4 separate regions of the Homo sapiens genome follow, and all the other regions are linked to region 2. The links come from fine-mapping of genetic effects on gene expression. A gene starts in region 2. Each other region holds a variant in brackets. All regions are shown on one strand. Distances are from middle to middle. Region 1 overlaps GCNT2 (glucosaminyl (N-acetyl) transferase 2 (I blood group)). Region 2 holds the start of GCNT2 (glucosaminyl (N-acetyl) transferase 2 (I blood group)). Region 3 overlaps GCNT2 (glucosaminyl (N-acetyl) transferase 2 (I blood group)). Region 4 has its middle 4.1 kb from the start of LINC02522.

Region 1 (2,500 bases), 36 kb after region 2:
CAATGCGTTACCTCTTCATAATTTCTGTCTCTAGTGTAATTATTTTTATCGTCTTCTCTGTGTTCAATTTTGGGGGAGATCCAAGCTTCCAAAGGCTAAATATCTCAGACCCTTTGAGGCTGACTCAAGTTTGCACATCTTTTATCAATGGAAAAACACGTTTCCTGTGGAAAAACAAACTAATGATCCATGAGAAGTCTTCTTGCAAGGAATACTTGACCCAGAGCCACTACATCACAGCCCCTTTATCTAAGGAAGAAGCTGACTTTCCCTTGGCATATATAATGGTCATCCATCATCACTTTGACACCTTTGCAAGGCTCTTCAGGGCTATTTACATGCCCCAAAATATCTACTGTGTTCATGTGGATGAAAAAGCAACAACTGAATTTAAAGATGCGGTAGAGCAACTATTAAGCTGCTTCCCAAACGCTTTTCTGGCTTCCAAGATGGAACCCGTTGTCTATGGAGGGATCTCCAGGCTCCAGGCTGACCTGAACTGCATCAGAGATCTTTCTGCCTTCGAGGTCTCATGGAAGTACGTTATCAACACCTGTGGGCAAGACTTCCCCCTGAAAACCAACAAGGAAATAGTTCAGTATCTGAAAGGATTTAAAGGTAAAAATATCACCCCAGGGGTGCTGCCCCCAGCTCATGCAATTGGACGGACTAAATATGTCCACCAAGAGCACCTGGGCAAAGAGCTTTCCTATGTGATAAGAACAACAGCGTTGAAACCGCCTCCCCCCCATAATCTCACAATTTACTTTGGCTCTGCCTATGTGGCTCTATCAAGAGAGTTTGCCAACTTTGTTCTGCATGACCCACGGGCTGTTGATTTGCTCCAGTGGTCCAAGGACACTTTCAGTCCTGATGAGCATTTCTGGGTGACACTCAATAGGATTCCAGGTACGTACAATTCCATATTTCATGCAAAAGAAATGTGTCGTATTTGAAAGGGCTTTAGAATAACCAGCCACTTTTTATTAGGAAGTAGAAGATGAAAACTGGAACATATATAGTTCTCACCCTAGTCCTTTCTAAATGCAGAAAGATGTT[CT/C]TTTTTTTTTTTGAGACTGGATCTCACTCTGTGGCCCAGGCTGGAGTGCAGGGGCAACATCATGGCTCACTGAACCCTGGACCTCCTGGGCTCCAGCAATCCTCCCACTTCAGTCTCCTGAGTAGCTGGGACTACAGGTGCACACCACCATACTGGGCTAATTTTTAAAAAAAATTTTGTGCAGACAGGGTCTCGCTATGTTGCCCAGGCTGGTCTCCAACTCCACAGCTCAAGCTATCCTCCCCATCTTGGCCTCCCAAAATGCTGGGATTATAGCCATGAGCCACCATGCCTAGCCCAGAATGATGTTCTTTATGTGATAATTCACATGTTCTAGCACTACTAAGTAATACCTTTCCATGCTATCACTTGGTGGTCCATCAAGTTCTTTTTCACACATCATCTTATTACATCTTTACCACAATAGCTGTTAGTCCACACTGGTGTTCTTTCTTTCCTCTAAATTTGTCAGGCTTGCTCTTACCCCAGGATCTTTGCCTTGGCCACCCTCCTGCCTACTCCAGGCCTCCACAGGCTCCTTCCCCTTAGCCAGATCTCAGCTCTCAGGTGTCAGCAGCTCTGATACTCCCCCTCATTGGCCAGCACACCACTCTGTTTTTCTTTTAAAGAGTTTATTGCCCTGTGGAATTAGGATATTTACCTATTTGCATGGGTTTGTTCTTGGTCTCCTCTGCATTTGTTCCATGAAGCCAGGGTTATTTTCTATCTCATTAACTGCTCCTCAGTGCTTAGAACAGAGAGTAAATGCTCAATAAGTATATATTAGATGAATAAATCAGTGAGTGAGTGAATGAATGGTAAAGCATGAAGCTTTACTATGGCACCAGAGCTGTCTCCCTAAGACATTGTTGAGCTGAGAAATATTTGGACTCATGCATGTACCATATTATATGTGTAGGATTTTTAAAAATACATTTTATTTCAAATAAAATAATGAGATCCTAGCAGAAACTCCTTGCTTTCTCACCCGAATTTTCCTATCTTTACTAATTTACCAGACCGATTGTTTTTTAAAGTGTATAAAACATGATGGGATTTCTTCTGAAGAAAACAGCGTGCTTTGGACTCAATGAAAAATACAAAATGGATCTCTGATGAACTAGACAGCATTATTATAGCAAGAGAAAAGCAATCATTGTTCTGGCTGTTGGGGGATTGCCAAGTTCGAAAGGCTGGTAGGTGCTCTCAGGCTGCAGGGCAGGGCCTGCTGGGCGATAAACACGCCGGCATTCTCTGGAAAATACCATGCCTGGTGTTTGAATCCCAGGGTGACTTTCCTGGTGAATGCGGCTCACTCGTATGCTGCGCACACTGTTTCCGCACCTGCCTCTGCCTGGGTTCATCCTCTCTTCACCTTTGATCTGTTGTTTCCACCATTCGCATATCATTGAGGAGCATTAGGTACTTAGGAGCTGATTT
Region 2 (2,763 bases):
AAATACAAAAATTACCCGGGCATAGTGGTGGATGCCTGTAGTCCCAGCTACTCAGGAGGCTGAGGCAGGAGAATTGCTTGAACCTGGGAGGCAGAGGGTGCAGTGAGCTGAGATTGTGACACTGCACTGGGTGACAGAGCAAGGCTCTGTCACAAAAAAAAAAAAAAAAAAAAAAAGTTGATTTGCTATTTCTTCAGTTTATCCTGGCTTTATGACTGGAAAAAAATTTTTTTTAACTCAGTTGGATTTTTTCTTTTTTTTTTTTTTTTTTTAAGTTGATGTCTCACTATGTTGCCCAGGCTGGTCTCAGAATTCCTGGGCTCAAACAACCCTCCCGCCTCAGCCTCCCTAGTAGCTGAAACTGCAGGTGCACACCACCATACCCTGCTTTATCCCCACTGAATTTTATAAGCTGCTTCTGACTGCAAAGTGTTTGGCAGAAGAGAGGGATATGGCTAAATGCACGGTATGACTAGCTTGTTTCCTGGGACAGGAATCAGTTCATTCCTGAAAGGGTATGTAAAGAGCCCGTTTGCCTGGCCTAGGAAAAGCCAGAGGTTCAGAGAGAGGAAGTGACTTGCTCAAGATATACAGCTTGCATTAGAGAGGAGAGAACTTGCCTTCTGAAAATGCCCAGGGCATTTTCTACTAAATTCTGCTGCCACCTTAGGATTCCCCTTCCCCAGTGTGGGTAGCATTTGAGCAGAACACATATCTAAATCTGTTAGAGGTTACCCTGGGGCAGAGACTATAAGATTTCCTACCAATAACTAAACATAAGAGTGGAACCTTAAACACGAGGGGTCTGTGAGGGAATCCAAAACTTCCCCTCTTGAAAAAGCAGCCTCTAAGGGGGCAAAATGGAGGGTAGTCTTAGGAAAACACCCAAATAATTATCCTGAGGTCTATCTTGGAGTGTCCTCATGAAAAACCCAGTTACACCCAGGGCAGTTACCTTTCTGAGCGGTTTCTTATAACATTCCTGGAGTGGAAAGTGATCAACTCAAAGCCCTCCAGGACTCTAGAGGCAGGGGATGAGCTGGTGTCAGGTAGCACCTGGTATCCAGCAGCTTAAAAAATCCAGACTCTAGGCAGGCTCTCTGTAGACGTGTGTTCTCCTGTCTCAGACTCTTAGGGCAGGCCTTGGGGGTGGGACTGAAAGCAAACAGACCTTCCCACTTTCACATTCCAGCCTCTGTTATTCCACTTAAAACGCTAGGGTTAAACTGCGTTTACCTTAAACAGGCTTACTGTGTTCACTGCTGGACGCCTCTGGGCAATCTTACCCTCCTGGGAACTGAGAGAGGTAGGTGGAGGTCAGCGTGCTGGGAAACTGGTGGAGGGAGGAAACTGCGGGGAGCTGGTCTTCTCGTGTTACCTCTGTTAAATCGCTGACAGCAGTTTAAGGTCCAATAGGCTGGTACTCAAATGGGCTGCGTGGATGTTTTATATTTCCAGAACCTAGCACAGTGCCGGGCATAAAGTAAGTACACCAAAAAATGTTGAATGAGTCATTTGGTCATGAGATTTCTGTTTTCAAAGGTTTTTTTTTTTTCAAAGAATAGCATGTTTGTATGTTGTTTCATTACATGATGGGCCTACTGGGCACGAGGGTTTTCCATCTGTCTCTAAATCATTAGTATCCTTCTGTATCTCAGTTACAACTTTTAACTTTGTAGGAAAGAACAACGTTCACTTCAGACTTAATGGTTTATGTTTCTCAGTTCCTTCAGGCAAGGGAAAATGTTTCCAGAATTTGATAAGGTACTTGGTACTGTCTGGCATTTAAATTTTTTTTTTTTTTTCCAGACATAGTCTCACTCTGTCACCCAGGCGAGAGTACGGTGGTGCGATCTCAGCTTACTGCAACCCCCACCTCCTGGGTCCTGCCTCAGCCTCCTGAGTAGCTGGGACTACAGGCATGCACAACCAAGCCCGGCTAATTTTTGTATCTTTAGTAGAGATGGGGTTTCATCATGTTGGCCAGGCTGGTCTCAAACTCCTGACTCCATGTGATCCACCTGCCTCAGCCTCCTGAAGTGCTGGGATTACAGGCGTGAGCCACCGTCCACAGCCTGAAATGTATTTTATTTAATTAGTTGCTGTGAGGTATGAACATTCCTGTGAGGTATGAACCTCATTTGATAATAGGTAAAATTGAAAATGAAGCTCTGGGCCATGTAGAAAAGTAGTAGATCCATATTGCCATTCTATGAAAACCCATCTTCTGATATTAAAGACAGGTCTACTAAGTAAATTCAGGTTTTGCCAAACTCAAAGCTACTTTTCTGTTTTCCTTATTTTTAAATGTAGGCCTTTGAGAGTCGTCACTTGTAAATAGTCTTTCTGCACCTGGTAGTAGATTGGCCAAATAGAGGGTAGTTACCTGTAGGCTGTGGTTTTCCAGAAGAAATAGGGAGACTGTAATCCCAGGCCCTGGGGACCCTACAGCGTAAAGGATCTGTTTCTTTGCACTCTGTTCTGATTGAACAGCATATTGCAATTATCGGAAGAAGGGAGGCTATATTCTTTCATGTAATTATTCTTAGTGATCAGAAGCTTGAGGTCTCCCTTGTGGAAGTATTCTACCTATGGCAGTAATTTTTGGTTCCTGTAACTTCAAAATCCTATCAAGGACTTTCTGAGCGATAGAGGTCGGGAGGGTAAGAGCAAAACTCCATCCAGAAAGGTGAAAACAACAAACAAAGCCTCGGGCACGGAGATTGGGCTGCTGTTCTAGCTTCTCATAATATCCCATTTATA
Region 3 (2,500 bases), 24 kb after region 2:
TGGTGTGCGCCTGTAATCCCAGCTACTTGGGAGGCTGAGACAGGAGAATTGCATGAACCCAGGAGGCGGAGGTTGCAGTGAGCCGAGATCACATCACTGCATTCCAGCCTGGGCGACAGCAAGACTCTGTCTCAAAAAGTAAAATAGGCAACACGGTGGCTCACGCCTGTAATCCCAGCACTTTGGGAGGCTGAGGCAGGTGGATCACGAGGTCAGGAGTTCAAGACCAGTCTGGCTAACTTGGTGAAACCCCATCTCTACTAAAAACGCAAAAAAATTAGCAGGGCGTGGTGGCAGGTGCCTATAATCCCAGCTACTCGGGAGGCTGAGGCAGAGAATTGCTTGAACCCAGGAGGCGGAGGTTGCAGTGAGCCGAGATCACCACACTGCACTCCAGCCTGGGTGACAGAGCAAGACTCCATCTCAAAAATAAATACATAAAATAAAATAAAATATTAAATAAATAAATAAATAAATAAATGGGGCCGGGCATGATGGCTCATGCCTGTAATAGCAGCATTTTGGGATGTGGAGGTGGGCAGATCACCTGAGATCAGGAGTTCGAGACCAGCCTGGCCAACGTGGTGAAACCCCATCTCCACTAAAAATACAAAAAATTAGCTGGGCGTGGTGGCAGGCACCTGTAATCTGAGCTACTCGGGAGGCTGAGGCAGGAGAATCACTGGAAACCGGGAGGCAGAGGTTGCAGTGAGCTGAGATTGTGCCACTGCACCCCAGCCTTGGCAACAGAGCAAAAACTCTGTCTCAAATAAATAAATAAATAAATAAATAAATAAATAAATGAGGTGGTCAGAGAGCTGCTGGGAAAATAAATAAAGCAATTTAATTTAATCCTAATATGTAGTTACTATGATTAGATTCCTTTTCTGCGATTTTATGTAAACCATCATTCCTCTTTTTAAGAATCAAGTGGGTACAGCCCCCCAGCCCCCTCCTTTCTAATAAAACTGTATCTTCTCTTTCTAGTCTATATCCTTTTCCTCCCAGCTCTTGCACGGTGAGCTGAAGGGTTCGTGCTGAAGTCCTAGTTGGTGCCTTTGCTTTTACTTTTTTGGCTTTTTCCATTTTGCAAGAGCTGTGCCTTGGCTGTGATCTCCATTTTTGTGGGTGCTCATTGGTCTGCGCTATCGACATTTGACCACCTAGAAACTTTGGAGTTTTGTTTAAATCCACATCAAGCCAGCTCAAACTTCCTTAGTGATTTTTGCTGCTTTAAATACTACCTTTTGTGTTCCTGAGCTTGACAAACTTAGGACAGTTTCTGACAGGGTTTCATGTTCTTTTGTTTTTACCTCGAAGGATTCATAACTGTGTCTCTTTCTAGTATTCTCCTTATTAGGAATAAAGCGAACTTCAAATTCCTATGAT[C/T]GTTGCAATCCTAACCTCCTTCGTGCCTTGTGAAAAATCATAACAGTTTTCATGAAGGGTAAATCAGTCACCCTTGTAGAATTTTCCATTCAAATCCTGAGCCATGTGAAGCTGTTTTTAGCTGCTTTCCTGAGTTTAGTCCTGGTCTGGGAGACTCAAGTGTCTTCAGCTTTGTGAATCAGGCAAAAGCCAGCAGTGGAGGAGGGTGTAAGACTTCCTTGCTTTTCAGCTCCCAGGCAATACAAGGGATGGTTAAGATGGCAGGGTAAATGAAATTAAAGAAAAGGCAAGGTTAAGAAATAAAATCAGTTACAATGGATAGGTCACTGTTGACAAGATGTGGGGCCTGAAAGTAGAAACCTGGAGTTGTTCCAAAGGTTGCAGGGTCTAGTTCCAAGGGCAGCTAGAAATGACTTGATCTTTTCCCCATGTGTAATATTTTCCCGATGTGTGTTTTTAGCTTCTTAAACTGATTCCTGTAACGGCAGCCTCTTTTGCTGTTCTTTATGCCTCACTGCTGAGCTTCCCTGCCATGTCTGTGCATGCTGACTTGCTGGGAATGGGTTACAGATGGGCTACACGTTGATCTCAGCAGCATATACGGCAGGCAAAACCCAGGACAGTTGAAGCCGTTTGGCCAGATACCTCTGGCTGAGAGCAGCTTTGTCCATTTTATCTACAGGTTTCAGACAAATGCAGTTGACCAGTGCCAACAATGTGGCGGTTAGGCCCACTGAACCCCTGTGTAGCCAAAAACCTATGTATAGCTTTTGACTCCCCTAAAACTCAACTACTAAAAACCTACTGTTGTCCAGGCACGGTGGCTGATGACTGTAATCCCAGCACTTTGGGAAGCCGAGGTGGGCGGATCATGAGGTCAGGAGTTCGAGACCAGCCTGGCCAATATGGTGAAACCCTGTCTCTACTAAAAATACAAAAAAATTAGCCAGGCGTGGTGGCAGGTGCTTGTAATCCCAGCTACTCAGGAGGCTGAGGCAGGATAATTGCTTGAACCCAGGGGGCGGAGGTTGCAGTGAGCCAAGATCTCGCCATTGTACTCTAGCCTGGGTGACAGGGTGAGACTCCGTTTAAAAGAAAAGAAAAGAAAATA
Region 4 (2,763 bases), 35 kb before region 2:
CCCGCAGTAAAGTTTGCAAAACTATCATACAATATTGCATCTAGTATATTAAAATGTACATAAACTACCAATTTTATTCAGTTTCACTGTTACTCATGTGTATTTTGTTCTAAATAACTATATCGCATGTGTAGGTTTGTGTATTTACTTCCCCAGCCATGACCACAAAGAACTCTGACCTCTCCTGTTGTCCTTTTACAGCCACACCTACCTGTCTTCATCATGACCCCCCTCAATGCCTGGCAGCCACAAATCTGTTCACTTCCAAAACTTTGTATTATCAATAATGTTATATACATAGAATCATGTAGGCGTGTGTGGGATTTTTTTCCACTCTGCATACTTCCTTGGAGCTTCATCCAAGTTGTTGCATTTATTGTGAATTTGTTCCTTTTGATTGCTAAGTGATAGTTTGTAGTTTGGATGTACACAGTTTAACTATTCATTAAAGGACATTTGGACTGTCTCCAAATTTTGGGCTATTATGAACAAGACTCCTATGAACATTCTTATATGGGTTTTTATGTTAATGTACATTGTAATTTCTCTGGGATAAATACCTAAGAGTACAATTGCTAGGTTAATATCTATTTTTATAGGTCTTGGCGAGCAATAAATTGAATGAGATCGTGTATGTAAAATCACTCATCTGACTTTTTTTTTCATTCCTCAACCTTCTTCCTTTCCTTCCTTTTGATGACGTTTTGGTCATAGGTTTGTGCTAGGATGAAAGTCTTGTTTAAAAAGAAAAAATGAGAGGATGGACTTCTTTTTGGAAAAGATGTAATGAACAGATGCCGTTGAGACCTGTTAGGATTTTCTGTCCTTAAGTTTCTTTCCACAGATTTTCAGAGCTTGAGTCACTTTATAATTTCAGAGAACACATCTTCGTCACCTGCTGTGGCGTAGTGACTTTAATCTAGATGATCTTGCTGGCAGCTGTGCTGGATGAACAAGTGTCTTCTGTTTTATAGGCAGCATCGTCACAAACACTGTCAGGTCAGGAAAAGAAAAAGAAACACACACCACAGCACTTTATTCCAGGCAGATTGAAAAATCTGCGTCTGCTTTCCTGACCCTAACTTTTTTATTTTTTTTTGGAATCTCACTCTGTCGCCCTGGCTGGAGCGCAATGGCACAATCTCGGCTCACTGCAACCTCCGCCTCCTGGGTTCAAGCGATTCTCCTGTCTCAGCCTCCCAAGTAGCTGGGATTACAGGCACCCACCACCACGCCTGGCTAATTTTTTGTATTTTTAGTAGAGATGGGGTTTCACCATGTTGGCCGGACTGGTCTTGAACTCCTGACCTCAAATGATCCCCCCACCTCGGCCTCCCAAAGTGCTGGGATTATAGGCATGAGCCACTGTGCCTGGCACCTTAACTTTCTTATTGGGCGTAAAGGGTAATTTTACATGTCAACGACTCGGCGGGCCATGGAGTGCCCAGATATTTGGTCAAACATTATTCTGGGTGTGTTTGTGGGGGTGTTTCTGGGTGAGATTCACCTTCGAATTGGTAAACTGAGTAAAGCAGATTATCTTCCTAATGTGGATGGATCTCATCC[A/G]ATCAACTGAAGACCTGAACAGGTAAAAAAGAGGCTAAGAGAGAATTTTGCCCCTCCCAGCTACTGATCTTGGACATCAACTGTCTGAGTTGCCCTGTTGCCCAGACTGGAATGCAGCGGTGTAATCAGAGCTCACCTGGGATCAAGTGATCCTCCCACCTCAGTCTCCTGAATAGCTGCACCACAGGCATGCCACCATGCCTGGATAGTTTAAAACTTTTTGTAGGCCAGCTGCGGTGGCTCATGCCTGTAACCCCAGCACTTTAGAAGGCTGAGGCAGGCGGATTGAGGTCAGGAGTTCGAGACCAGCCTCACCAACATGGTGAAACCCTATCTCTACTAAAAATACAAAAGTTAGGCATGGTGCCTCCTACCTGTAATCCCAGCTGCTAGCAGAGGCTGAGGCAGGAGAATCACTTGAACCCAGCAAGCAGAGGTTGCAGTGAGTTGAGATCATACGCAGTCCAACTTGGGAACCAAGACCAAAAACTCCAAAAAAAAAAAAAACCAACACAACCACACACACACACAGAAAAGACACACTCCAGGGACAGGGACTCAGACTTTCCAAATAGTCTTCACAAACTTATGCTTTTCCAGGGCTGCTGGTGTGTCCAGAATTGGTCAGTGCCCGGTTTCACCGACTTCAAAAATGAAACCATGGGCCCTTAACAGTGAGTATTAAATTTCTTATAAGCGGCATGTCTGGAGCTTGCTCCTTCTAATGTTCCAATGTGTTCAGTTTTTTTCCTTTTGGTGGATTATGTAGTCTTCCTTGCTCAGAAGTGAGGCTACTAACTTTCACAGTGAATGTTATAGCTCGTAAAACTGGCACGTCTGGAGTTACGTCTCAGTGAATTTGTGGGCTCACTGGCTTCAGAAGTGAAGCCACAGACCTTCATAATGAGTGCTACAATTCACAAAAGCAGCACAGACCTAAAGACCAAGCAGAAACAAAACGAGGGAGGAGGAGGAGAAAAAGCTTCCACACAGCAAAAGTAGGTTACAGCTTATTACTACTGGAAGCTCAAGGCAGCCTGCTTTTATTCTCTCATCTGGCCCCACTCACATCCTGCTGATTGGTCCATTTTACAGAGAGCTGATTGGTCTGTTTTGACAGGGTGCTGATTGGTGCGTTTACAATCCCTGAGCTAGACACAAAAATTCTCCATGTCCCCGCTAGATTACCTAGATACA

What was found. PIP is the estimated chance that this variant, and not a neighbour inherited with it, causes the effect. A credible set is the group of variants that fine-mapping cannot tell apart.
Region 1: its variant is the best candidate, but not a certain one, in a credible set for the expression of GCNT2 in iPS cells (HipSci, PIP 0.54).
Region 3: its variant is the best candidate, but not a certain one, in a credible set for the expression of GCNT2 in aorta (GTEx, PIP 0.87).
Region 4: its variant is the best candidate, but not a certain one, in a credible set for the expression of GCNT2 in testis (GTEx, PIP 0.54).

What each region holds. Positions count from the first base shown.
Region 1 is chr6:10,556,434-10,558,933 of GRCh38, forward strand. All of the region lies in intron 3 of GCNT2 (glucosaminyl (N-acetyl) transferase 2 (I blood group)), which reads left to right. Among named protein-coding and RNA genes, the nearest start is that of GCNT2, 36 kb to the left of the region's middle. RefSeq lists enhancers at 1-188, 2,122-2,500. The variant CT/C (reference allele first, on the strand shown) is at 1,060.
Region 2 is chr6:10,520,112-10,522,874 of GRCh38, forward strand. It overlaps GCNT2 (glucosaminyl (N-acetyl) transferase 2 (I blood group)), which reads left to right and starts at 1,240. Exons shown (of 5, transcript NM_145649.5): 1 at 1,240-1,306. LOC101928146 (a long non-coding RNA gene) reads right to left here and starts at 1,295. Exons shown (of 3, transcript XR_001743961.2): 1 at 1,237-1,295. RefSeq lists an enhancer at 1,527-1,586.
Region 3 is chr6:10,544,179-10,546,678 of GRCh38, forward strand. The region is part of intron 3 of GCNT2 (glucosaminyl (N-acetyl) transferase 2 (I blood group)); the gene reads left to right. Among named protein-coding and RNA genes, the nearest start is that of GCNT2, 24 kb to the left of the region's middle. The variant C/T (reference allele first, on the strand shown) is at 1,390.
Region 4 is chr6:10,484,673-10,487,435 of GRCh38, forward strand. No RefSeq gene overlaps it. Among named protein-coding and RNA genes, the nearest start is that of LINC02522, 4.1 kb to the left of the region's middle. The variant A/G (reference allele first, on the strand shown) is at 1,567.